3 separate regions of the Homo sapiens genome follow, and all the other regions are linked to region 3. The links come from fine-mapping of genetic effects on plasma protein levels. A gene starts in region 3. Each other region holds a variant in brackets. All regions are shown on one strand. Distances are from middle to middle.

Region 1 (8,187 bases), 21 kb before region 3:
AGGATTTTTGTAACCCACTGGCACATTGGCATTAAGACCTAACTTGAATTAACATAAGGCTATAACATTTTTATTCAAGCTATTTAAGGTGAATAATCCCATGTTTTCCAATAGATATATTAATATGTTTGATTCTGGGTATTTTCCCAGACTCTGCTGGTAATATCAAGTAATATGTATTATTATCTTTAAATAGGAAGATTCCAAAACATATCTGGTACCAATCGTTTAGATGAAATATCACCGTCTAGCAAGATAAACAGAAAGCTTGGTTTTACTTGACAAAGCTAACCTACCTCACAACACTAAGAAAGAACTTCCCACAACTCTCTTTAGGTAGAGCCAAGACTCTGGAGGAGGTAAAAAGGTAGGAAAAGATTGAGGAGGCAGGAAGGAAAAGGAGGGAAGAAGAGCTAAGAGATTACTCTCTTGTTTTGTGACCAACTTTTTTTAACTTAAAAATAATACATCACAATTTATATTTTAATTTTAAAAATTTATATAGCAATATAATACCATATGAATGTCACATATATAAGGCTATATATGTTAATATAACATATGGTATATGGTAATAATTTTATGGCAATAAATGTTCTTCTACAATATGATTCATTTAATTTCCAGTTGTTGGACATTTTGTACCTGTGTTCATGATACTATTTTTCCCTCTTTCCTCCAGCACCTTGGAACACTGAGTAGGAGTAATGATTCCTTGTATATTTTATTTTATTTTGAGACAGAGTCTCACTCTGTTGCCTAGGCTGGAGTGCAGTGGCACAATTTCAGCTCACTGCAACCTCTATCTCCCAGGATCAAGCAATTCTCCTGTCTCAGCCTTCCAAGTAGCTGGGATTGCAGGCGCCTGCCACCATGCCTGGCTAATTTTTGTATTTTTAGTAGAGACAGGTTTCACCATGTTGGACAGGGGTCACAAACTCCTGATCTCAGATGATCTGCCCGCCTTGACCTCCCAAAGTGCTGGGATTACAGGCCACTGCACTGGACCTGATTCCTCTCATATTTTATGTATTTTTTCCTTTTGTAGCTCTTTCTCTTAGACCTACAAAGGCAATCAAGGCTCTCTCGTTTGTTGAGAAACACACACACACACATACACACATACACACACATTTCTCCTGACCATGAGTCTCTGTTAAACCATTGTCTTGCTTCTCTTCTTCTTGTCTCAGATAAGATTTCTTGGGGAAAAAAGTGCATTCACTTCCCTTTGACTTTTCAACCCAATATAATCTGCCCATCATCCTATCATTATGAGCTCAGAAAATTCTGCCAAAATTATACTCAAAAATGCTAATAATGGTCAACGTATTGTGTTAATACACCTCATGATTTCTTTCCTCCAAGAGTCTCTACTTCCTTGGCATCTACCAGATGTTCTCTTTTTAAATTTTCCTTTATTTCTTAATTGTATTTGCAGGTTTCTTGTCCTCTGTCCTTTCCTGCCCCAAATACCGAAGCTCCCAAAGGTTCTACTTTGTCAATAGTTCTTTACTGTCAGTACAGTCTCCTTTGTCGTATCATTCACTGTTGTTTGCTTAATTGCCCCTTGTATCTTGCTGATTTTTGAAACAATATTTCTAATTCTAGTATCTCCCTTAAGCATCAGACCAAAGTATTCAACAGACAACTGGCTGGGTCCAGCTGAATGTCTCATAACTACTTCAAAACCAGCACATCTATAACTGAACTCAGCCTCTACCCACTGTCAGTGAGTCTGCTCCTCTCTTGCCTCCTGATCTGTCAGATGCATCTCACCCACCCAGCCATTCTTGCCAGAAATCTGCCACATTCTGGACTCTCCATTCCGTTTTCCTGTTCCACATCAAATTGGCCACTGAGTTCCATTTTCTAAATATGTCTAGACTCCATGCCCTGCTTTTATTCCAACAAACACAGTCTTGGTCCAGACCCTTAATAAGACTATTTTAATAATCTAGTCTTTTGGGTCTTTGCTCCATCATCTACAGAGTAGTAAAAATGATATATTCAAAGGTAGATCTGACCACATCATTCCTTCACTGGACCACTTCCACCAGCTGACCATCACCCACAGAATAAAGGCTGAATCTTAAGTGTGCTAGGTAAGATCCTGCAGGACAGGATGTTGCTTCCAGGCTTATTTCCCACCAAACCCAGCTTCGCAAGCCATGCCTCAGTTGCCTTAGTAGCACTGACCTGTTGCTGTTCCCTGCAGACCCTGCTCCTGCCTGCATCCACACCCTTGTTCATGCTCTTCACACCACAAAGAATCCCCTCCTACTCTTTTTCACCTGGATAATAGCATCAGCTCCAGAAACTTCCCTGCATTCCCAAATTAATCTAAGTAGAGCTCTTTAGTACTCCTCCAGCAAAATGTGCATTCTACGGACAATCACATGCCAACCTATGCTGAAATTATCTGTTCAAATGTCTTTCTCCATTACTAAAGACTGAATTCTTCAAGAGGAGGATCTATGCTTATTTATCTTCATATCATTAACACTAAATAAATACCTGGCATATAGTAGGCCTTCATTTGCTAAAACGAAAAAGTATTGTTAGGGTAGTTATCATAGAGCAAACAAAATACTGTGCAGTTGGCATAATTTCAGCACTCAAGGGGTTCTCAGTCTCAAATAAGTAAGTGAATACTATGACATAATATGTCTTTGATAAAGCTAAGCATAGGGTGTCCTGGGAGCACATAAAGGATGTACTTAACTCATCTGGAGAGGTAGGAGTAGCTCTGTGGGAAATATCCAGGAACCCCTCTTGGTGACGATAACACCAGAAAAGTGCTATGAAAGATTAGTAGGTGGGGCTCGCCACGGATAAAGGACCAAACAATCTGTGCAAACACCTTGAGGTTCTGCATATGCTAGCAAATAGGAGATGGGAAAATATTTCAATATTGCAGAAGCCCAGGATATTTGTAAGTAGAAGTGAGATTAGAGGATAGAGAATAGGAAGGGACCACACATCTAGACTTTGTGTGTCTTTCATGTTAAGAAATTTGATTTGTCAATTAGAAGTCAGTGAAGAATTTTAAGCCAGACAGTATTATAATCAAAAACAGCTTTTTGTGATTTCTGTAACTACAATATGGAGAACTGACTGGATGGAGCTGAGATTGTCAGACTGTCAATAGGAAGCCCTGTTAAGTGAGATAAGATGGGGGCCAGACCAAGGAAGAGAAGAGAAGAATGAGAGGACCATGGAGGCCACTTGCGAGCAATGAGAGATTGGATCTTTGCAGCAATAAACCATTCCATTGAACTATCTTGGTGGTCAACCCCATTCATATCCAGGATATACTTAGTGTCAAACTCTTTATAAAGCAAGATAGGCATTTGTGAACATATAAGGAAAATGGCTTAATTTGTTCAGGCAGGAAATAAAATGGGTTTTCAATGAACTCCTGTTATAATGATCTGTAATTTGAATATTTATTTTTAATACTGCTACTGCAAGTAAATGTCCTGCCTTTTCCCAATCAGCTTAAAATTGAACTGACATCTAAGGTTTCAAGGTTTAGCAAATAGGCAGGGCACGGTGGCTCATGCCTATAATCTCAACACTTTGGGAGGCTGAGGTGGGCGGATCACCTGAGCTCGGGGAGTTTGAGACCACCCTGGCCAATATGGTGAAACTCTGTCTCTACTAAAATACAACAACAACAAAAAAATTAGCCAGGCATGGTGGCACTCGCCTGTAGTCCCAGCTACTTGGGAGGCTGAGGCGTGAGAATTGCTTGGCCGAGGAGGCAGAGCTTGCAGTGAGCTGATGCACCACTGCACTCCAGCTTGGGCTACAGAGTGAGACTCTGTCTCAAAAAAAAAAAAAAAAGATTTAGCAAATAAATTTAGCCTGTATTTGTAGGCTTCCCAGCTAAAGTTGAATTTCAAATAAACAACAAAATTTTTAGCATACATAAATCCCCAAAAGTGTGATATGCTTATACTAAAAAATCATTCATTATTTATCTAAACTGTATATTTAACTGAGTGTCTTTATTTTATCCAGTAACTCTTCTGACATCAAAATATTACCTGTAGATAATAGCGCCCTTCCACAGTGTGCAGTCCGTCAAATGCCCCTAGAGCGTACACTTCATTTGGTATGTTCTCAGACATTTTGTAGCTTAAATGACAGCAGAGATCTTTCTGACAAACTGTATAATTTCCTGCAACTCCTGTGAGCTTCACAAAAGTGAATTCATCGAAAAAGACAGTGCCTTTAAATTCCTTGTTTCCTGATGAGAGCGCTTCTATACTGCTGGCATAGGAAGTCCAGTTCACCACTGCAGAATGGGATGGGTGGGAATCCAGTTGCGAGAGGAGGAGTTTTCCCTCTTCTGTCTTCATATCATAATGAAATGCTCTTGAAGAATTGGGTGCATAGATGCCACTTCCTGGAAGTAATAAGTTGAAAACATCATTTGAAATTGGAAAGTAAAAAGGGATTTCATAATTGTTATTACTATTTTAACCTCATATTCACATTTTACTCTCTCTAAGTTATATGTTTTATTAATTTCAGTAAAACATGCTGATAAAGACAGAGAAGTGAGAGGAAATCAATTAAAGTATGAAACCAAGAAGCCAAGAAGGGAGAGTTGTATGTAAGAAGTCATATATTTTGAAAAAAAAATCAAGTTAAATAAAACCAAATAAATCTACAAAACAATTTAGACTGAGATTGATTCTATAGCATATTAACAGCTAGATGTTCAAAAATTAAGAGCTGGAAAACATTGTATTAAGGAGTATGCGTTAGCTAGAAAAACATGTTTTTTTTTTCTTTTCTTTTCTGATTACATCAGCCTGCATATCTTTAAGATCACACATTACCTGTCATTTTCTTTGAGGGGTAATGTATGTTGGATGCAAGGAAATTGACCCTCATGCCCATAGCCCAA[G/A]CTGAGTGGAATTCAACAGCTGACAAATGTGGCAAAACATTCATCCAAGCTGTTGGGAATACTATGGTGTCCACGTGGAAATCTTTCACCAAGGTAACAGCAGGATCATGGAAGAGTATATCAAAGCATGTGAAAATGCCAAAACTTCCAAAGGTGGTATTGAAAGTCACAATCTCAGGCTCCTTGGGTACATTGAATTGATTTTCACCCATGAAAAGGTTTTGCTGCAATAAACAGAAGATAAAGAGAAAAAAATTATTTTAGGAAGTTGATCTGGACATCACAGTGTGGGAAAAAGTACAAGCTCACATCTTAGTGCCAATTTCATCTATGATCAGTGTTTTCATGGGAAATGAGTTTGCTTTAGAGAATCAGAGGCCATTCTAGCTAAACTGGGCCTTTAGTTCAGTCTCCACATTACAAATATGTACATGGGTATCTTTATCTATAAAGACCCACTGGAATCTTATAAGACATAAAATAGATTACTTCTGTTTGCCAAGTAGACTTAACTGTTTTCCTTGGCAAGGAACTTTGTTTGTTCCATTCTCCTCAAGACAGAGTCTATGTGGTAAGCAGTTTTTCATTCTAGCCTTGACCCATTGCCAGGGTATGCCTTTAAAAGGACAAAGTCCAAAAGGCAACATTAGGCAACATAATGCATGCGGCACTTTCTGACTGCTACACACTCCTGAAAACACACTCCTGTGTTCTTATATGTACACGGAACCCCTTAAGCCTCTTTATAGGAGCTTTCCACGCTTTATCATTACTTTCTATGCTTTGCCCCTACTCGATTTCTAAAGTGTGCTTATCATTATCAATAACATATTTTTCTCCTTGCCCACTTTATTTCATTAGGCATTAACTAATTGGATTATTTGCAAATTAATTTTACCTTATGGTAGCGTGCCACCAGTTTTCCTTGAGAATCAAATACCACATCAGTGTTGTATTGGTAACGGCCATCAGGGGGACACTGAGGATCACTGGTATCGCATGGCTTCTTGTCCCCAATATTTGCCACAACATAGATAGAGTTGTTCTTGGCCAGGCAGCTGAGTCTTTCTTGTACTGGGGTCTGGCCAAATCTGATACATGTTTATTGGAGGAAAAAAATCTTTGTAAATCAATCTTAACTCTCAACAAAATCCTGAATGATAGTTGCCTAAACCTATTATTTGATATATGCAAAAGTAAATTCTAAATAACAATAATTAGAAGAGAAGTATTAAGACAAGAAAGGAGTTCAGAGGAAGCCCATGCTTGAGTAAAATTGGTTGTAGGAACCTACTGTAGGATAAGATTCCAGACCACGTATTTTTTCTTCATAGCATTTATCGTAATCTATAGTCATATTTTCACTTACGTGTTTGTCTTATAATGTCTGCAGCATCCTGTGGATATCATAGATCAATGACTTACATATCCCGTTTACTAAAATTTTGTCTAACAGAAGAGAGGCATTAAAAAATATCTTGGGGTGGGTGTGGTTGCTCATGCCTGTAATTCCAGCACTTTGGGAGTCCAAGGAGGAAGGATTGCTTGAGCCCAGGAGTTTGAGACCAGCCTGGGCAACAAAGCAAGACTGTCTCTCTACAAAAAATGAAAAAAAAAAAAAATAGCCAGGCATAGTGGTGTGTGCCTGTAGTCTCAGATATTTGGGAGACTGAGGTGGGATGATTGCTTGAACTTGGGATTTTGAGGCTACAGTGAGTTCCACTGCATTCCAACCTGGGCAACAGAGCAAAACCCTGTCTCAAAAAACAAATTTTGGGGGGCCAGGTGTGGTAGCTCATGCCTGTAATCCCAACATTTTGGGAGGCCGAGGTGGGTGGATCAGCTGAGGTCAGGAGTTCGAGACCAGCCAGACCAACATGAAGAAACCCCGTCTCTACTAAAAATACAAAATTAGCTGGGCCTGGTGGCGTGCGCCTATAATCCCAGCTACTCAAGAGGCTGAGGTGGGAGAATTGCTTGATCTTGGGAGGCAGAGGTTGTGGTGAGCTGAGATCATGCCATTGCACTCCATCCTAGGCAACAAGAGTGAGACTCCATCTCAAAAAAAAATTTTTTTGAATGAGTTAACAAAAATTTAGAGGTAGAGGGATGCTGGGAAGATAGCAGAGCAGGGAATTTTTCTCCCCACCTAGATAACAATTGCACTGTTGGAATCTGTCTAATATTACTATTTTGGAGCTCTAGTGCTTGCAACTTCCAGAAGAATGCTTGGAAGGTAACTTACAGTTAATTTCAGTCCATTTTAGCTCTTAGCTCAATAGTGGTTACCAATTCCTCATCCCCTGTCCCTGTGACAGGCTGCCATGTCTGTGTTCCTAAAGCAGCTTGCAGGCAGCTTATGGGAGCAGGGTGGACAATAATGACCTTGTCTTTCAAATATACGAGATCTGCATTCTGATCACTAATTGTTGCTTCTGATCATGGAGGTACAAATGCAAAGGCAAGCAGCTATTGTTGTGTATACATACAGACACACCATTTTTGCAGGCCCTCTTTCTGGCTGAAGTGGCTTCCAGGAGATTTAAAGAACCAGTGTCTTATTTATTTATTTATTTTCTCTTTTTCTCCTTTGGATAGTGAGACATTTAAGGAATAAGCAATTAAATATACAGGGAAATTTAGAAAGTCGCCATACATGCCCAGGGAAAGGTACAGACTCATAAAAGGTCTAAGAAGACCTTAAATTTACATCTCAAGCTGATCCTCAACACAAACATCCTACAACAACAAAACAAACAAACAAACAAACATAGCAAACCCAGAGAATCTGATTCCCAGAGTAACCATGTGATAAGATTCAAATGTCTAGTTATCAACCAAAAAAATCACAAATCATACAAAGAAACAGGAAAGTATGACTCACTCAAAAGAAAGGAAAAATAAACCAACGAAAATCATCCCTGAAAAGGACCACATGACAGACCTACTAAACACAGACTTTAAAACAATGGTTTTACAGAAGCTTAAGAAAATAAAGGAAGATGTGGAGAAAATCAAAAAACAAAACAAAGTAGAAATATCAATAAAAAGATAGAAAACCTAAAAAGAATCTGGAGCTGAAAATTACAATAACTGAAATGAATATTTTATAGGAGGATTCGAAGACCAATTCAGGCATGTAGAAAAAAGAAACAGTGAACTGGAAGACAGGACCATTGAAATTATTGAGTCTGCAGAACAACAACAAAAAATATTAAAGAAAATTGAACAGAGCCTTAGGAACACCATTGAGTGTCCAACACATG
Region 2 (8,187 bases), 26 kb after region 3:
CATGCTCATATACTGCAGCAATAAAAGTGTCCAGTGCACCAACACTCAGAGCAAGGAGGGCAAAAACTGCCACACATTTTGGAAAATGTGATATAATCATAACTAAAATTTAGTGATCTTTGAAAAACAAACTCAGATTCTTACGTTTTGTTTCACTGGAAAAACTTTACATTAAATCCCTCCTGGCAATCAGCTGTTTATATTTTCTTGCACATATATTACACAACACAGCATTGAGAAAGGATGTTGTGCAAGAAAACTGACAGCCAGGACGTAATTGGATTGATTCAAGTGTACAGTGCAGTTGTTGACATTGTTCAGAGTCAAGTCAACACTAAAAGATTGAGCCAACCAGATGAATTCACCCCAGTCCAAAACACACTGGCAGTTGAAGTCTTTTCTAATAAAAAAAAATTTTCCTGGTAAGCCAACATTTCTATTAATAGGGCCAATATTGGAAGGTAGTCATCATAGCAACAATTTGTTGAGCACTCTACTTACATATTTGTATGGCCATTTCTATTTGAAAAGCCCTTGTTCTCCATCCGTCTAAGTTCCAGCTCCCCCTAGAGTCCTCCCAAATCCACTCCAGTCCTAAGTGATATTTCTGAACTCCTATAGCATTTTTTTCTGTGCTGCTGAATGTCTCTCACTCCTTGCTGTTGTCTTGACCTTTAATTTAAATATTATACCAATACTTAATATTATATATGTATGTTTTGTCTTCTTAAAGAGATTAAAAAGAAACTTGCTGTTTTCTTTCAGAACATCCATGTCCAATAAACATCTAGACAGAGATGATGTATCCTGGGATGTGGCCCCTGGAGGGTAAGGGAAGTGTCCTGCTCACTGTTGAACCTCATCACCCCAGCACATGTGTGACAGATGGTGAAAGCTCAATATATGAATGAATGTTGAATGACGGAATCTACTACCTGATGGGCCAGTCTATTCCACCTTTGAACATTGCCAATTTTAAGAACATTCTTGTTATTGAGATGCAATTTACTTTACCTGTCTTCTACAGTTTAAACCCGCTTCCATATGAAGACTAATCAATAATTCAAAAAGTGTTAAGTTCTCCTTTAATTCTTTTATTTTTTAAACATATCATCCTTATAAGTCCCTTAAGGGCAGGGTCACATTATAATTCTCTGCTGCTTCTATAGAATTTTATACTGTGCTAAGCTCTGTAAATGTTTTTTGATTAGTTAAATTCACTTCCCTCGCCCAATTTTGGATTGAATCTCCTTGTTTGAATATCAGTTAATTTAAAATGTAGAATTTTTTTTAAGGTTTAAATCTCTGATTCTAGAACAATTAACACTGCTTCTCCCTCTTGAGATTCTTTCTAAGATCTAAGGAAAATTGTAAGTTATGGAGATTTGTGTCTATTTTGGGTTTGGTTTGTTTCTATAATTCAAAGTCCCTTGGTTTCAATAAACTTTTCCATTATCCAAATATTTCTGCTCCCAGATACCCCACAGTGTTTCCATATGTCCTTATGCCCTGATACCATTTCAGGAAATAAGGACATATGAACATAAATTCAGCCCTAAATTCTGAGTTTATGTCTGACATAAATTGTTTTCATCAGACATCAGACATAAGTTCTTTTCCAAAAAAATTTCTGAGGAGAAGAGGGAAACTATGTAAAACAGATGGATTGATCTGGGATGAGAAGAAAATAATTTTCATATTTCAAGTTGAAATTCTAACTCTTTTCTTGGTTCACCTGACTTTCTGAATAGAATCAAAAGGAAACATATGGGAATTCCCCTTCATTCTCCCAGCCCCTAGTTCCAGGAAATGTACCAGCTTTTTTTGTGTGTTGAAATCAATAGAAACTTGAGTTAAATATTTGATTACCCAATGTTGTTAGTAATGTCTTTGCTTCCTAGGTGTATAAGGCGTGCAGCTATGAGTTATTTGAAACACTGTATTGGTACATAATCCTTATGACAGTCTGGCATTATTGTAGGATTAAGAAGTTTAGAGTCAGAAGTTTTGTATTACAATAAATATAATTCTTCTTTTAAATATGTAAGGGACACATCTTAAAGGAGAGGTGCTGTAATAAAATATCTAAGAGTTTACTGGCTTTCCCCAAATCTTTATTTCTAAACTCATTGTAAAACCTCCTCTCCATTCTCCTTATCAAGTTCCTGACCCCATAAATAAGAATTCTTTCAGGCTCTCCATCAGCCTCTCTGATCCCACTCCTCCCACCCTAACCCTCAATACTGTAATCCATTAGAGTTCCCTTGACCATTGCTGTCATTAATTAAGATACTTCCCATGCATATATTGAATCAAAGCAGACAGTAAGAGCCTTCTTTCTCTTGGTTCCATTTTATATTTTGTGTTCTTAGCTAAAAGTACTCTTCTTATTGTAACATGATCACTGTTGCTCTGATCCTGGAATGATTCTGACCAAATCCTGCCTTTCGAGCTCAAATCCATTGCCTCTCCAGTCTTGTTGCTATTCCCTTCTCTAAACTCTTAATGCACTTATGGCCAGTAGCCACATTGTTGTTCACTGTCTTTCAGTCCCTTACTCTACCCTCTCCCCTGGCCCCAGGTTTTTTTCTACTTCATACCTTCAACTATCTTCTACAAAAGGATAATGACTGTGTCTCTATCTTTAGCTCAAACTTCCGTTCTGAACTTCAGGCCTATTTATCCAACTCAAAAGAACTCCTTTCCACAAGCTCCCACCAAGTATCAACCCACCTGCCAGCCATTTGTACCTGTAAATTCTGCCTCCCCCCATCCTTACTGTAAATGACTCCTCTTGACCCTACTTAAGTCTAGCCCCTATCTTTGAGCACTGGATCCCAAGGACATTGCTCTAGAAGTTCTTCTCTCTTACTTTGTTTATTTTTTTGTTTGTTTGTTTTTGAGACAGGGTCTCACTCTGCCACCCAGGCTGGAGTGTAGTGGTATAATCTTGGCTCACTGCAACCTCCACTTCCCAGGTTCAAAAGATCCTCCTGCCTCAGCCTCCCAAGTATCTGGGATTACAGGCATCTGCCCCCCACACCTGGCTAATTTTTGTATTTTTAGCAGAGATGGAGTTTTATCATGTTGGCCAGGGTGGTCTCAAACTCCTGGCCTCAAGTGATCTGCTCACCTCGGCCTCTCAAAGTGCTGGGATTATAGGCGTGAACCACCAATGCTCGGCCTTTTTTTTTTTTTTTTTGAGATGGAATCTTGCTCCATCACCCAGGCTGGAGTGCAGTGGCCCAATCTTGGCTCACTGCAACCTCCGTCTCCCAGGTTCAAGCAATTCTCCTCCCTCAGCCTCCCGAGTAGCTGGGCTTTCAGGCGCACATCACCATGCCTGGCTGATTTTTGTATTTTCAGTAGAAACAGGGTTTCACCATGTTAGCCAGTCTAGTGTAGAACTCCTGACCTCAAGTGATCCACCCACCTCGGCCTCCCAAAGTGCTGGGATTATAGGCATGAGCCACCGTGCCCAGCCCCATTACTGTTTATCATCAATTTTTCTTTCTCTATTGGATACAATAAAGAAAACACAAATATCCTATTATATATTCTACAACTATCCTGTAACATTTTCTATCTTAAAAAAAAAAGCCTTTTGATCTGACATCCCCTTCCAATTCCTGCTCCATTTCTCAGCTTTATTTTATAACAAAATTCCTTTCCACGATGGTATGTACTCCTTGCCTCAATTCCTGTCCTCCCAATGGACAGGATTTTACCCCCATGACTTCACTGCCTTGTCCAGTTCCCATTAATCTCCCTATTACTAAGTCTGATGGTCAATTCTCAATGTCATCTTACTCAATGTCTTGGTAGTACTTGACAAAGCTGCCATTATCCCATTCTTAATGTACTTTCTTCTTCACACCCTTTTAGTTTTCCTCTTTCTTTCTTCTTAGTTTTTGTATTTGTTTACTTTGTTTTGTTTCTTTGGACTTTTTCTTCTGGTTTCTACTCATCATCCCTGACTTGGCAACACTGGTGCACCCTGGAGCCCAACCTTTGGAAGTCTTCTGTTCCTATCTACACTCACTTCCTAGGTGATTACATCCATTTCATCTCTTTAAATACCATCTATATATTTAATATTAGTGACTCACAGATTTATATATCTACCTCAAACCTCTCTTGAGAACTCTAGACTCTTATATC[T/C]GGCAACAGTCTACTCAAAATCTCCACTTGACTGTATGAAGGCTTATCTGATCAACATGAACAAAACTGAGCTCCTGACCTTCTGCTCCTGATGCTCTTTCACCAGCAGTCTTTCAGATCTCAATTAACGGCTTCTCTCATCTCCCTTTTGTTCCGGCCAAAACCCTTGGAGTCACCCTTACTTCTTTCTGTCTCTCTCACTCTACACACGTTCAAGCAAGTGGTCTTTTACTACACCAACTGTGGTCCAAGCCGTCATTATCACTAGTCTGGATTATTCCCAAACCCTTGCACCTGGTTTTTGTACCACTACTTCTACTTTTGCACAACAACAATCAGAGCCATTCTATCAAAATATAAGACTAATCATATCATTCCTCTGCTCAAAACCTATCAATGGCCTGGGTGCAGTGACTCACACCTGTAATCCCAGCACTTTGGGAAGCCAAGGCGGTCAGATCACCTGAGGTCAGGAGTTTGAGACCAGCCTGACCAACATGGAGAAACCCCGTCTCTACTAAAAATACAAAATTGGCTGAGCACAGTGGCATGCACCTGTAATCCCAGCTACTCAGGAGGCTGAGGCAGGAGAATCACTTGAACCCGGGAGACAGAGGTTGCAGTGAGCCAAGATTGCACCATTGCACTCCAGCCTGGGCAACAAGAGTGAAACTCCATCTCAAAAAACAAACAAACAAATAAACAAACAAAAAAACCTATCAGTGGCATTCGATTTTACTCAGAGTAAAAGGCCAAGTTCTTACAATGCCTAAAAAAACCACTATAAGCTGTCACTTCTAACAATTCCTACTACTTTTCCCATGTTCACTCGGCTCCAGTTGCATTGACTTCTTTGCTGTTCCTCAAGCATGTCCCTGTACTGTCTCCACTACCCTGAGGGGACTGCTGCAACTGGCTCCTTCCTGGCCACTCTGCCTTTAGAACTTCTTTCTCCACTCCATCCTTCAAAAAGCCATCAAATTTATCTAGTTTTTAAACTGTTTAGTCCCTCATGGCTACTTGACTCTAAAACTCTTCAATGTGTCTTTCTCTCAGCTTCTGGATAAAGTCTAGACTTCATTTGTGTTTCAACACTGACTCTGGACTATCTCTCTAGTCTTATTTTTTACATCGTCTGTCCTTATCCTTCCTCCTTGCATCCTCTTCCTCCGTAATACATTAAACACTGCTTGAAGCATACTTCCATGTCTTTGCATGCATGACTAACTCTATTGAGAATGCCCTGATTATCTTATTCTGCTTGTCTGTGACATCCTTCTGGTCTTCCAAGGTAGAATTGATCCATTTCTGGTCCTTGTATTGATCATAGCACTAGCACGCCTCAGCCTCCAAAGTGCTGGGATTACACGCATGAGCCACCATGCCCAGCTAAGTTTTTTTTTTTTTTTATGTGATTGTTAGCTGCATAAATGTCTTCTTTCGAGAAGTGTCTGTTCATGCCCTTTGCCCACTTTTTAATGGGGTTGTTTGTTTTTTTTCTTGTGGAAAAGAAGTTCCTTGTAGATTCTGGATATTGGGCCTTTGTCAGGTGGATAGATTGCAAAATTTTTGTTTAAGTTCCTTGTAGATTCTTGGATATTGAATCTTTGTCAGAAGGATAGATTGCAAAAATTTTCTCCCTTTCTGTAGTTTGTCTGTTCACTCTGATGATAGTTTCATTTGCTGTGCAGAAGCTCTTCAGTTTAATTAGATTCCACTTGTCATTTTTTGCTTTTGTTGCAATTGCTTTTGGTGTTTTTGTCATGAAATCTTTGTTTGTGCCTATGTCCTGAATGATATTGTCTAGATTTTCTTCTAAGGTTTTTATAGTTTTGGGTTTTACATCTAAGTCGTTAATCCATCTTCAGTTAATTTTTGTATAAGGTGTAAGGAAGGGGTCCAGTTTCCATTTTCTGCCTGTGGCTAGCCAGTTTTCCCAGCACCATTTATTAAATAGGGAATACTTTCCCCATTGCTTGTTTTTGTCCAGTTTGTCAAAGATCAGATGGTAGTAGATGTGCAGTATTTTTAAAATTAATTTCTGAAATGCAAAATGAAACAGAACAGGGAAGCAAAGGTTTATAACATAACTGATCAAAGCTTTTAGCAGGGTTGTTCAATCCATATTCAAACAATATAAGATGTCACAGAATTCTTGAAGACAGGTAAATTGAAATTAGTCAGTTCACTCTCATTATTTTTCTCCTTTGACTTAGCTTCACGTGGTCTAGAAATTCTCAAATAAATCGTTGATTTTTTTTTTTTTTTTTGGACACAAGATCTTGCTCTTTTGTCCAGGCTGGAGTGTAGCGGCGTGATCACAGCTCACTGCAGTCTTGACCTCAGAGGCTCAAGTGATCCTCCCACTTCAGCCTCCCGAGTAGCTGAGAACACAGACACACACCACCACACCTGGCTGGCTTTTTGTATTTTTGGTACAGACAGGGTTTTACCATGTTGCTCAGGCTGGTCTTGAACTCCTGAGCTCAAGCAATCCTCCTTCCTCAGCTTCCCAAAGTACCAGGATTACAGGCATGTTTTCTTTCCCATTCCAAGTACTTTCTGTCTTATTTACATACTCAAGAAATCCTCTTCACAGTTGTCCCTGTTTCTTTGTCCAAATGTCTTCTCAGGAATGCTTTCATTGGAAGTAGCTGCGTGTGGCTCAGTGTAAGCATGTGAGTGTGGGTGTGGGTATAATAACCATATTGACCTAAGCAGGCATCCAGCCTCAGATATCTTTTAGAACATTATCACCCATGGACTATCTTGGAATGATGGTCAGAATGGAGTTAGAAATGTAAAAAGAATTTAGGAAAGAGGCCAAAACAGAAAGAATGCTGACAGAAATCACCTGTACAGAGCAATGAGCCAACACTATGAGGACAGGTCAAAATGCAAAGAAAGTAGAAAGTAGGGGCAGTGTAGTTGCAAAGCAGGTTGTGAGCATATCATAGAAATTATGGAAATAGATCATATCAAAGGGGGCAATGTCACAGAGTGGCAAAGGGAGCAAAGAGAATGCATAGACCACTGTCTCAGTACTTAGTGCTTGGGATATAGTAAGTGATCAATGCTTCCTGAATGAATGAAGGAAGGCTAGGTAGTGAGCCCTGAGAGAAGGCTGCTGCTGAGCATGTGACTTTGTAATACAGGGGGCTGTAACCAGGAAGTTGTAAAAGAGCATTTCAGGAAAAAAGCCTAATGAAAGCCAAATAGGAGAAAATAAGAGCTTTGTTTACTATCTCCAGAACCACAAGGGACTCAAGAACTAACATGAAATTTTAGAATGGGATGAGGCCGGGCGCGGTGGCTCACGCCTGTAATTCCAGCACTTTGGGAGGCCGAGGTGGGCGGATCATGAGGTCAGGAGTTCGAGACCATCCTGGCTAACATGGTGAAACCCCGTCTCTACTAAAAATACAAAAATTAGCCAGGCGTGGTGGCGGGCGCCTGTAGTCCCAGCTACTCAGGAGGCTGAGGCAGGAGAATGGCGTGAACCTGGGAGGCGGAGCTTGAAGTGAGCCGAGATCGCACCACTGCACTCCGGCCTGGGCAACAGAGCGAGACTCTATCTCAAAAAATAAATAAATAAATAAGTAAAAATAAAATAAAATGGGATGAAAGATAGTTATCAAAGAAATATAAAGGCCAAATGAAACTATGCTTGGGTTGTTTGATAAAATAAAATGTATGTGAGAAACCACGGTGGAGATGGGTTAAAATGTGGTGCAGGCAATTTTACAGTAGAGCATTAAGTGCTCTTTAATTTCCTTGGCACTTGGTGCTTTCGTTTTTTGTTTTTATTTTTAACAAACTGAGGTACAGCTGAGAGCTCCAAGCTTGAATCAGAACTGTCCCTTTCTGTGAAAGGAGCTCCTTGCTTGTATCTTACTCAAACCAGTTTGTTTAACGTCAGCTGTTGATTTTCAATCAACATCTAAACTTCTGCAAATGAAACGTCATTGCCCAAGAGCCAAAATACATGCTGCAAAACCACTGCACAACATCTAACTTCCTCAAGCA
Region 3 (8,187 bases):
ATGCCCTCAGACGACCTTTTAAAATTTCAGCCCCACGCTTGCCACCCTATTCACCTTCCCCACTTTATTTTTTCCATAACATTTACTTCCACCTCATATCATAGATAGGTAGACAGATGAAAGATACCTATATAAAGATAGGTAGATAGATAATAGATAGATGATAGATAGATGATAGATAGATAGATAATTATCTTTTTAAAACATTTATTACCTCCCCACACTAGAATATAAATTTCAAGGGGACAGGAATTTTTAATCTGTTTTGTTCACTTCATTGCCCAGAACAATGTTTAGACATAATAGGTACTCAAAAAAAATTTGCAGAGTTAATAAATTAAGGCAGCTGGGCGTGATGACTCATACCTGTAATCCCAGCACTTTGGGAGGCCGAGCAGGTGGATCACTTGAGGCCAGGAGTTCAAGACCAGCCTGGCCAACATGGTGAAACCCATCTCTACTGAAAATACAAAAAACTAGCTGGGTGTTGTGGCTCACACTTGTCATCTTCGGGAGGCTGAGGCACAAGAATTGCTTGGACCTGGGGGATAGAGGTTGCAGTGAGCTGAGATCACGCCACTGCACTCCAGCTTGGGCGACACAGAGTCTCTCTCTCAAAAAAAAAAAAAAGAGAGAGAGAGACAGAGAGAATTAAGGCAAGACATTCAGACATCATTAGTTGATGGAAAACATAAATGGGCAACCGTGTTCCTTGAAATGAAGTGAATGGGACATCCTTGTGGGGATGTTCAGGAGGCCCTTGGAGATGAGGTTCTAGGGAAAGGCCATTCAGAAATAAGTCAATTCAATTCATAGTGGAAGTGATAATAGAGTGCTTGCCTTTTAGAAACTGAAGCACTGACATATGACATGATTAAATAAGAAATAATTATGGTACAATTAAATAAGAATAGAGTAAATGATTATGATAAATAACACTGGAATTTATCAAAATCCACCTTGTCAAAATCAAGGTGTCTCTGTAAGTAGTTTTTGTGGGTTTGTTTGTTTGTTTGTTTTTGAGACAGAGTCTAGCTCTGTTACCCAGGCTGGAGTGCAGTGTCACTCTCTTGGCTCACTGCAACCTCTGCCTCCCAGGTTCAAGCAGTTCTCCCTGCCTCAGCCTTCCAAGTAGCTGGGATTATAGGTGCCCACCACCACGCCCCACTAATTTTTGTATTTTTAGTAGAGATGGGGTTTTGCCAAATTGGCCAGGCTGGTCTCAAACTCCTGACCTCAGGTGATCCTCCTGCCTCGGCCTCCCAAAGTGTTGGAATTACAGGCATGAGTCACCACACCCAGCCAGTTTCTGTGGGATTTTTAATTTTAGTATTATTATTATTATACTTTAAGTTCTGAGATACATGTGCAGAACATGCAGGCTTGTTACATAGGTATACACGTGCCATGGTGGTTTGCTGCACCCACCAACCCATCATCTACATTAGGTATTTCTCCTAATGCCATCCCTCCCTTAGCCCCCGACTCCCCGACAGGCCCCGGTGTGTGATGTTCCCCTCCTTGTGTCCATGTATTCTCGTTGTTCAACTCCCACTTATGAGCGAGAACATGCAGTGTTTTGTTTTCTGTTCCTGTGTTAGTTTGCTGAGAATGATGGTTTCCAGCTTTATCCATGTCCCTGCAAAGGACATGAACTTATCCTTTTTTACAGCTGTGTAGTGTTCTGTGGTATATATGTGCCACATTTTCTTTATCCAGTCTACCATTGATGGGTATTTGGGTTGGTTCCAAGTCTTTGCTATTGTGAACAGTGCTGCAATAAACATATGCATGCATGTGTCTTTATAGTAAAATGATTTATGATCCTTTGGTATATACCCAGTAATGGGATTGGTGGGTCAAATGGTATTTCTGGTTCTAGATCCTTGAGGAATCACCACACTGTCTTCCACAATGGTTGAACTAATTTATACTCCCACCAACAGTGTAAAAGAGTTCCCCTTTCTCCACATCCTCTCCAGCATCTGTTGTTTCCTGACTTTTTAATGATCACCATTCTAACTGGCGTTGTGCGGTTTTGAGAATAGTTCCAAAAGAGGAATTCCTAAAATAATTTTAGCCATGTGTATTCAGAAAGAAGTATGTGAATCGACATGATTTTCTTAGGTGTATAAGATATTGGTTTCCTTACATTAAAATTAATAGTGCTGCTTTCACCACACTTAATATCTCTGTAGCCGAGACCTGACTTAAACCACTTAAAATCCTGCCATATCACCTCTTAGATTACAATCAGCTTACACTTTAAGGACTTTACTACATTAACCTCATCAGCTATCTTAGCAATGAGAAAGGAAAACTATTAATCTTAAACTGATGTGACTCTCTTTTGCCATTTACTCATATAGTTTTCAAATCACAGACCTACACAGGGAAATATTTTTCTGTTCACTGGTGAGGAGTCAGAGACCAGAGATGTTCACACTGAATGTGATGATTTCTAAGCTACTTTCTAGCTCTGACTTCTGTGACTTCATAATTCATATTTGCTCTCCCAGTAAATATACCCATAGTAGATGAAAAATAAGCTATACTGAAACTTAAGAATTGATCATGGATCTATGCAATGATCATCAACAAAGTTTTCCCAGGTAAATCAAGTTGATGTTTACTAGTGAATTTTTCACAAGTTGTTTCTTTACCTGTTACGATTATTACAGGGGATCCAGTTTACTTCAGGGTCTGGGATGTCCTCCAAATATGGGTAGAGAGAGTCCCTGTTGAAGTTCCAGCCATAAATAGCATCTTCTGGAGTCACAATAATATGCGCACCCTGTTAAAAATGCAACTTAATCCAAAGGGGGGCCTGCAAGAGGAGCTGAGGAGCTGAGTGGCTGAGTAACAACTATTTGGGCTTCCCCCACACCCCTTAAATCTTATTTTGTTTTCTATATTTTTATAATTTATTTTCTTTTCCAAAGCATTTTAATTTCCTTTTTTTTCAGTGCACTGTCACTTCTTTTTCTTTTTCTTTTCTTTTCTTTATTTCTAATTTTAGATTCAAAGGGTACAAATGCAGGTTTGTTGCATGGATATGTTACATAATGGTGAGGTTTGGGCTTCTAGTCAAGCATTTTTTTTTCTCTCTTTTTTTTTTTTTTCAGATGGAGTTTCGCTCTGCTGCCCAGGCTGGAGTGCAATGGCTAGATCTCGGCTTACCACAATCTCCACCTCCCGGGTTCAAGCGATTCTCCCGCCTCAGCCTCATAAGTAGCTAGGATCACAGGCATCTGCCACCACGCCTGGCTAATTTTTGTATTTTTAGTAGAGATGGGGTTTCTCCATATTGGTCAGGATGGTCTTGAACTCCCAACCTCAGGTGATCCGCCTGCTTCAGCCTCCCAAAGTGTTGGAATTACAGACATGAGCCACCGCACCTGGCTTAGTCAAGCATTTTAATTTTCTAATCCTGCCATTGTTGTTTCCTATGGCAGTCGTTAACTATAAACCTAGCTTATCCTGGAACCAAGCCTCTCCTTGAACTTTCGCTGATGACTGTGCCTGTGTCAAGACTGATTAATAACTTAAATATTCTGTTTATTTCCTCCTCTGCCCTAGCTTTCCCCTGCAAACATGATTCCTGCTTCTCAGAAAAAGAGGAGCCACAAACTGGTTACTTGAACTGTCCCATGCCTACAAGTACTGCCTGAGCTAACCTGGGCACCTTCCAATTAGAGAGTCACCTTAAAAAGCTCTGTGACCTTCAAGGAAATAGTTGGACTAAGGATGAAAAAGAACATCAGAACTCCTGATAACCTTTTAAATATTAGTATATATAAGAATATAGGGCAGTCACGGTAGCTCATGCCTGTAATCCCAGCACTTTGGGAGCCCAAGGCAGGTGGATCACCTGAGGTCAGGAGTTCAAGTACAGCGTGGGCAACATGGCAAAATCCCATCTCTACAAAAAATACAAAACTTAGCTGGGCACGGTGGCATGCATCTGTGGTCCCAGCTACTCTGGAGACTGTAGTGGGAGAATCACCTGAGCCCGGGAAGTCAAGGCTGCAGTGAGACGTGATCACACCACTATACTCCATCCTGGGTGACAGAGTGAGACCTTAACTCAACAACACAAAAGAATATATATTTATAGATATATGTAATACACATTTATCCATGACTTTTATCACACTTCATGTATTCCTGGTCTACACCTAATCGATCAATAGCTTTTAAAATAATATTTGTGTAAACCACAATTTATACTGTATGATTAACTTCAAACTGAAACCTTCACTAAACTTAAGGACTCACAATGCATTACATATACTTTTATCTTGTAATTAGAATGAAGTGTGAAGTATATAATGCATGCTGGCAAGGAATTGAAAACTTAAATTTGTTTTCAGATTATAAATTTATTCGAAAACCTGCAAAGCCTTAATAGCACATGAGTACATGAAGGCCACTAATACTCTGAAAATAGCACCTAGTCCCTGACCCATTTATCCTCCATCCTCCATCTGTACCAGAAAAGGGGAACAAAGATGTTGAATTTATGGCCAGTTCCTCAAAGGTCTGCTGCTTCTTGATAATGAGCAAATTGTTCTTTTCTTAACTTTGTTCTTACTTTTAGGGAAGTCCTTGCTCTAATTTTGAGAGGAAAGTAGAATTCTAACTGTAAAATAAAGGTTCTTGGCTACTCTGATACATATATCATCTAAAAGTGTAACTGACCCTGACAGTGGCCCTGTCTCCTAGGACCCCCTCCTTTCTCATAGAATCCAGTACACTGGAGAGATGGTAGAGATGGTACCTGATCTGCTGCTGATGTGATCGCTCCTTCCAAAATGTCCAGATTCCGATTCATTAATGCCAAAGCCTCCTCACGAGACACTGGTGTTAGGGTGGCATTGGGCAATATCGCTGCATGCTCATAAACAGCTGCAGTGAAAGTGTCCTGGCAGCTGGCTCTTGAGACATAGAAAAGCAAAATTGCCACGTAAGCTGGCAACTGAGTAGTCATGCTGAAGTCCAATGAGTGCTGAAAAACAGAGCATGTCCTGGTATTTATAGAAAGAAGACACGTGGTGTCCAGAACTTAGTACCTTAAACTACGGAAGTTAATTAAGAAAACGCTATGATTTCATAGCATTGTTACATAACAAAAGACCCTACCTTATTGCAGTAATTTGTGAAGATTAACTCAAGAACTCTATGTACATTAGTTCGCTAGGGCTGCCTAACAAAATACAATAAACTGGGTGGTGTAAAAAATAAAAAATTTATTGCTTTGCAGTTCTGGAGGGTGGGAGTCCCAGATGAAGGTGTCAGCAGAGTTGGTTCCTCCTGAGGGCGGTGAAGGAAAGATGTGTTCCAGGCCTCTCTCCTTGACCCATAGATGGCTGCCTTCTCCCTGTGTCTCTTCATATGCTATTCTCCCCATGTGTGTGCCTGTATCCAAGTTTTCCCTTTTTGTGAGGACACCACTCTAATCTTTAACACAGGGAAAGGGAAAATCCCAGCTCTAGCTTTTTTTGTCATCGTTGTTGTTTGTTTATTGTTGTTGTTGTTTGAGATGGAGTTTCACTCTTGTCACCCAGGCTAGAGTGCAGTGGCGAAATCTCGGCTCACTGCAACCTCCGCCTCTCGGGTTCATGTGATTCTCCTGCCTCAGCCTCCCAAGTAGCTGGGATTACAGGCGCCCGCCACCACGCCAGGCTAATTTTTTGTATTTTTAGTAGAGATAGGGTTTCGCCGTGTTGGGCAGGCTGGTCTCAAATTGCTGACCTCAGGTGATCCACCTGCTTTGTTTTTATGCCAAATAAGGGCAGAAGAAAAAAGCCAACTGAAGGTCATAAACCCAGGGGTACAGGCTCACTGAAAGACTGAGACTCAATCATAGGACCAATTCGATTTAGTGCCCACTGTACTCCAGTATAACTTCATCTTAACTAATTAGATCTGAAATGACCCCTTTTCCAAAAAAGTTACATTCTAAGATACTGACAGTTAGGACTTCAACATATAAATTTTTGGAATTCATATATTTTGGAATGTCAACACAAGACATTCAAATAATTTTAAAACTTTATTATTATTTTCATGTGAATATTTCAGCTCTACACTTTGATTTACTTTATTTTCCTCAAAATGGGGAAGCCAGGACAAAGAGGAATACAAAAGAGTTACTCATTTTCTATTGCTATATAACAAATTATCCCCAAATTCAGCAGCTTCAAAAAGCAAAAATACATCATCTCCCACTTTCTCTGGGTCAGGAATCCAGGGGCAGTTTAGCTGGTGCCTCTGGCCCAAGGTCTCTTTCACAAGGCTGCAGTCAAGCAGCTGCCAGGGCTAGCTATATCAAGGCTTGACTCCAGGAGGATTCACTTCCGAGCTCCAAGCTCCCTCATGTGGCTGACGGCAGGGATCAAGACCTCATTGGTTGTTGCCCAGAGACATGAGTTCCTAGTGATGCAAACCTCACCATAGGGCAGCCCGCATTATGGTATCTGGATTCCCTTAGAGCCAGACAGCAAGTGAACCCACTGGAGATGGAAGCCACGGATGCTTCGTAATGTAATTGGGGAAGCAACACCTCATCGCTTTTGTTGTATTCTATCCAATAAAGCATTAGGAACCATCTTTGAAGCTGCTTATCACAGAGGCAACAGAGGTGTATAAAGAATCAGAGCAAAAAAAAGAAAAAATGAGCTGGGGAGCGAGATCCAGAGAGAGGAGAGGGAAATTATATAAAATAGAAAAACTGTTCATAGATTTTGATATTGAGTAAGCTGGCAAATTTTGTTTCAGTTGTGCATTAAGTATAATATTTACAGAATTAGTGTTTATGTTTTTCCATTTTATTTTTAGATCTATTTGTCTTTGAATGGTATTTTTATAGTTCAATCTGCAAACAGGCATATCTAATTTTTTACTTTAGTAACTATAATGCATTTATTCTGCAATTGCCAAGGTAACCCAGGGGTTGTGGTTGGCTGGTTCTCCTGAGTTTCCGGTAAACACCAGCTTCTCTAACTGCTTGCTGACCTCTTAGGGCCTTTCCATGCCCAGGTGGGTGGGAATACCACATATTTCACAAAAAGATGTCATTATTATGTAACAATTTGTAAAAGGAAGCACTGAAATAAAAGTTAAAACTGAGATGAGTTGGCAAGAGGTTAAAAAATTACTTCTTGACCTTCTTAGATTAAAAATATTAAACCTCCCGTGGAGTTTCTAGTCCAACTCATAAAGAGCTTGGCAGTCATTTTTCCCATGCTCACACCAAGAAAAAAGCTAAACAAATGAAAATCGACAACTTTTCTAGGATGCATCAGAGAATTGAGATCACAGGATAAACTGCGGTCCTCAGAACTGCAGAGATAGGCAGATACAGAGGTTAAGAGTGTACTGCGAGCAGAGTCCTCTGCGGCTGGCGCCAGTACCGTGGGTTCACTTGAACTGTAATTGACGAATTGGTGGAGGCTCAGGGTGGACAACCTTGAGAGTTCTGGTCTGTTCTTCTTAACAAAAGCCTGCCCTCAAAGTAAAGTATTTTACCAGAGCCTAACCTACCTAGGGGAAGGAAAAATGCCAACCCCAGCCACTCTAATCTTTAACTTGGGGAAAGGGAAAATCTCATCTCTAGCTTGTTTTTATGCCAACTAATGGCAGAAGAAAAAAGCCAAGTGAAGTTCATAAACCCAGGGGTACAGGCTCACTAAAAGACTGAGACTAAATCATAGGACCAATAACCTTGTCCCTCCTCCAGCATGTCACTGCCACATGAATCTACCCTTTCTGGCCTACTTAGCATGTACTAGCTGAGAGCAAATCTTCAGATGAAATAATGCAGTTCGGCCAGGCGCGGTGGCTCATGCCTATAATCCCAGCACTTTGTGAGGCCGAGACGGGAGGATCACCAAAGGTCAGGAGTTTGAGATGAGCCTGACCAACATGGAGAAACCCTGTCTCTACTAAAAATACAAAAATTAGCTGGGCATGGAAGGGAGCAGTGTGGGGGGCGGGGGCGCCTATAATCCAGATACTCGGGAGGCTGAAGCAGGAAAATTGCTTGAACCCGGGAGGCGGAGGTTGCCTCGAGCCGAGATTGCGCCATTGCACTCCAGCTTGGTGATAGAGTGAGACTCCGTCTCAAAAAAAAGAAAGAAAGAAAGAAAGAAATAGAAATAGAAACAGTGCAGTTCTTGCAGTAGA

Direction of the effects. Alleles are on the strand shown, and positions count from the first base shown. The strength of an association depends on the size of the effect and on how common the allele is.
For the plasma level of the protein whose gene starts at base 5,010 in region 3, allele A in region 1 goes with a lower level than allele G (moderate association).
With allele C in place of T in region 2, the plasma level of the protein whose gene starts at base 5,010 in region 3 is higher (moderate association).

Evidence for each region. PIP is the chance, under the fine-mapping model, that this variant and not a neighbour inherited with it causes the effect. Protein levels are from antibody-based Olink assays in UK Biobank. Linkage for the fine-mapping came from a reference panel and not from the study's own genotypes, which makes the PIPs less certain.
Region 1: its variant is fine-mapped to the plasma level of the VNN1 protein (UK Biobank, PIP above 0.99). The variant lies in the coding sequence of VNN1. If it changes the protein, the assay may bind it differently, which can mimic a change of level.
Region 2: its variant is fine-mapped to the plasma level of the VNN1 protein (UK Biobank, PIP 0.95).

The regions. Positions count from the first base shown.
Region 1 is chr6:132,688,171-132,696,357 of GRCh38, forward strand. It overlaps VNN1 (vanin 1), which reads right to left. Exons shown (of 7, transcript NM_004666.3): 3 at 5,820-6,012; 4 at 4,854-5,145; 5 at 4,053-4,414. Among named protein-coding and RNA genes, the nearest start is that of VNN1, 22 kb to the right of the region's middle. The variant G/A (reference allele first, on the strand shown) is at 4,922.
Region 2 is chr6:132,734,593-132,742,779 of GRCh38, forward strand. It overlaps the pseudogene VNN3P. Among named protein-coding and RNA genes, the nearest start is that of VNN2, 19 kb to the right of the region's middle. The variant T/C (reference allele first, on the strand shown) is at 4,162.
Region 3 is chr6:132,709,046-132,717,232 of GRCh38, forward strand. It overlaps VNN1 (vanin 1), which reads right to left and starts at 5,010. Exons shown (of 7, transcript NM_004666.3): 1 at 4,781-5,010; 2 at 2,664-2,794. The coding sequence starts at 4,990.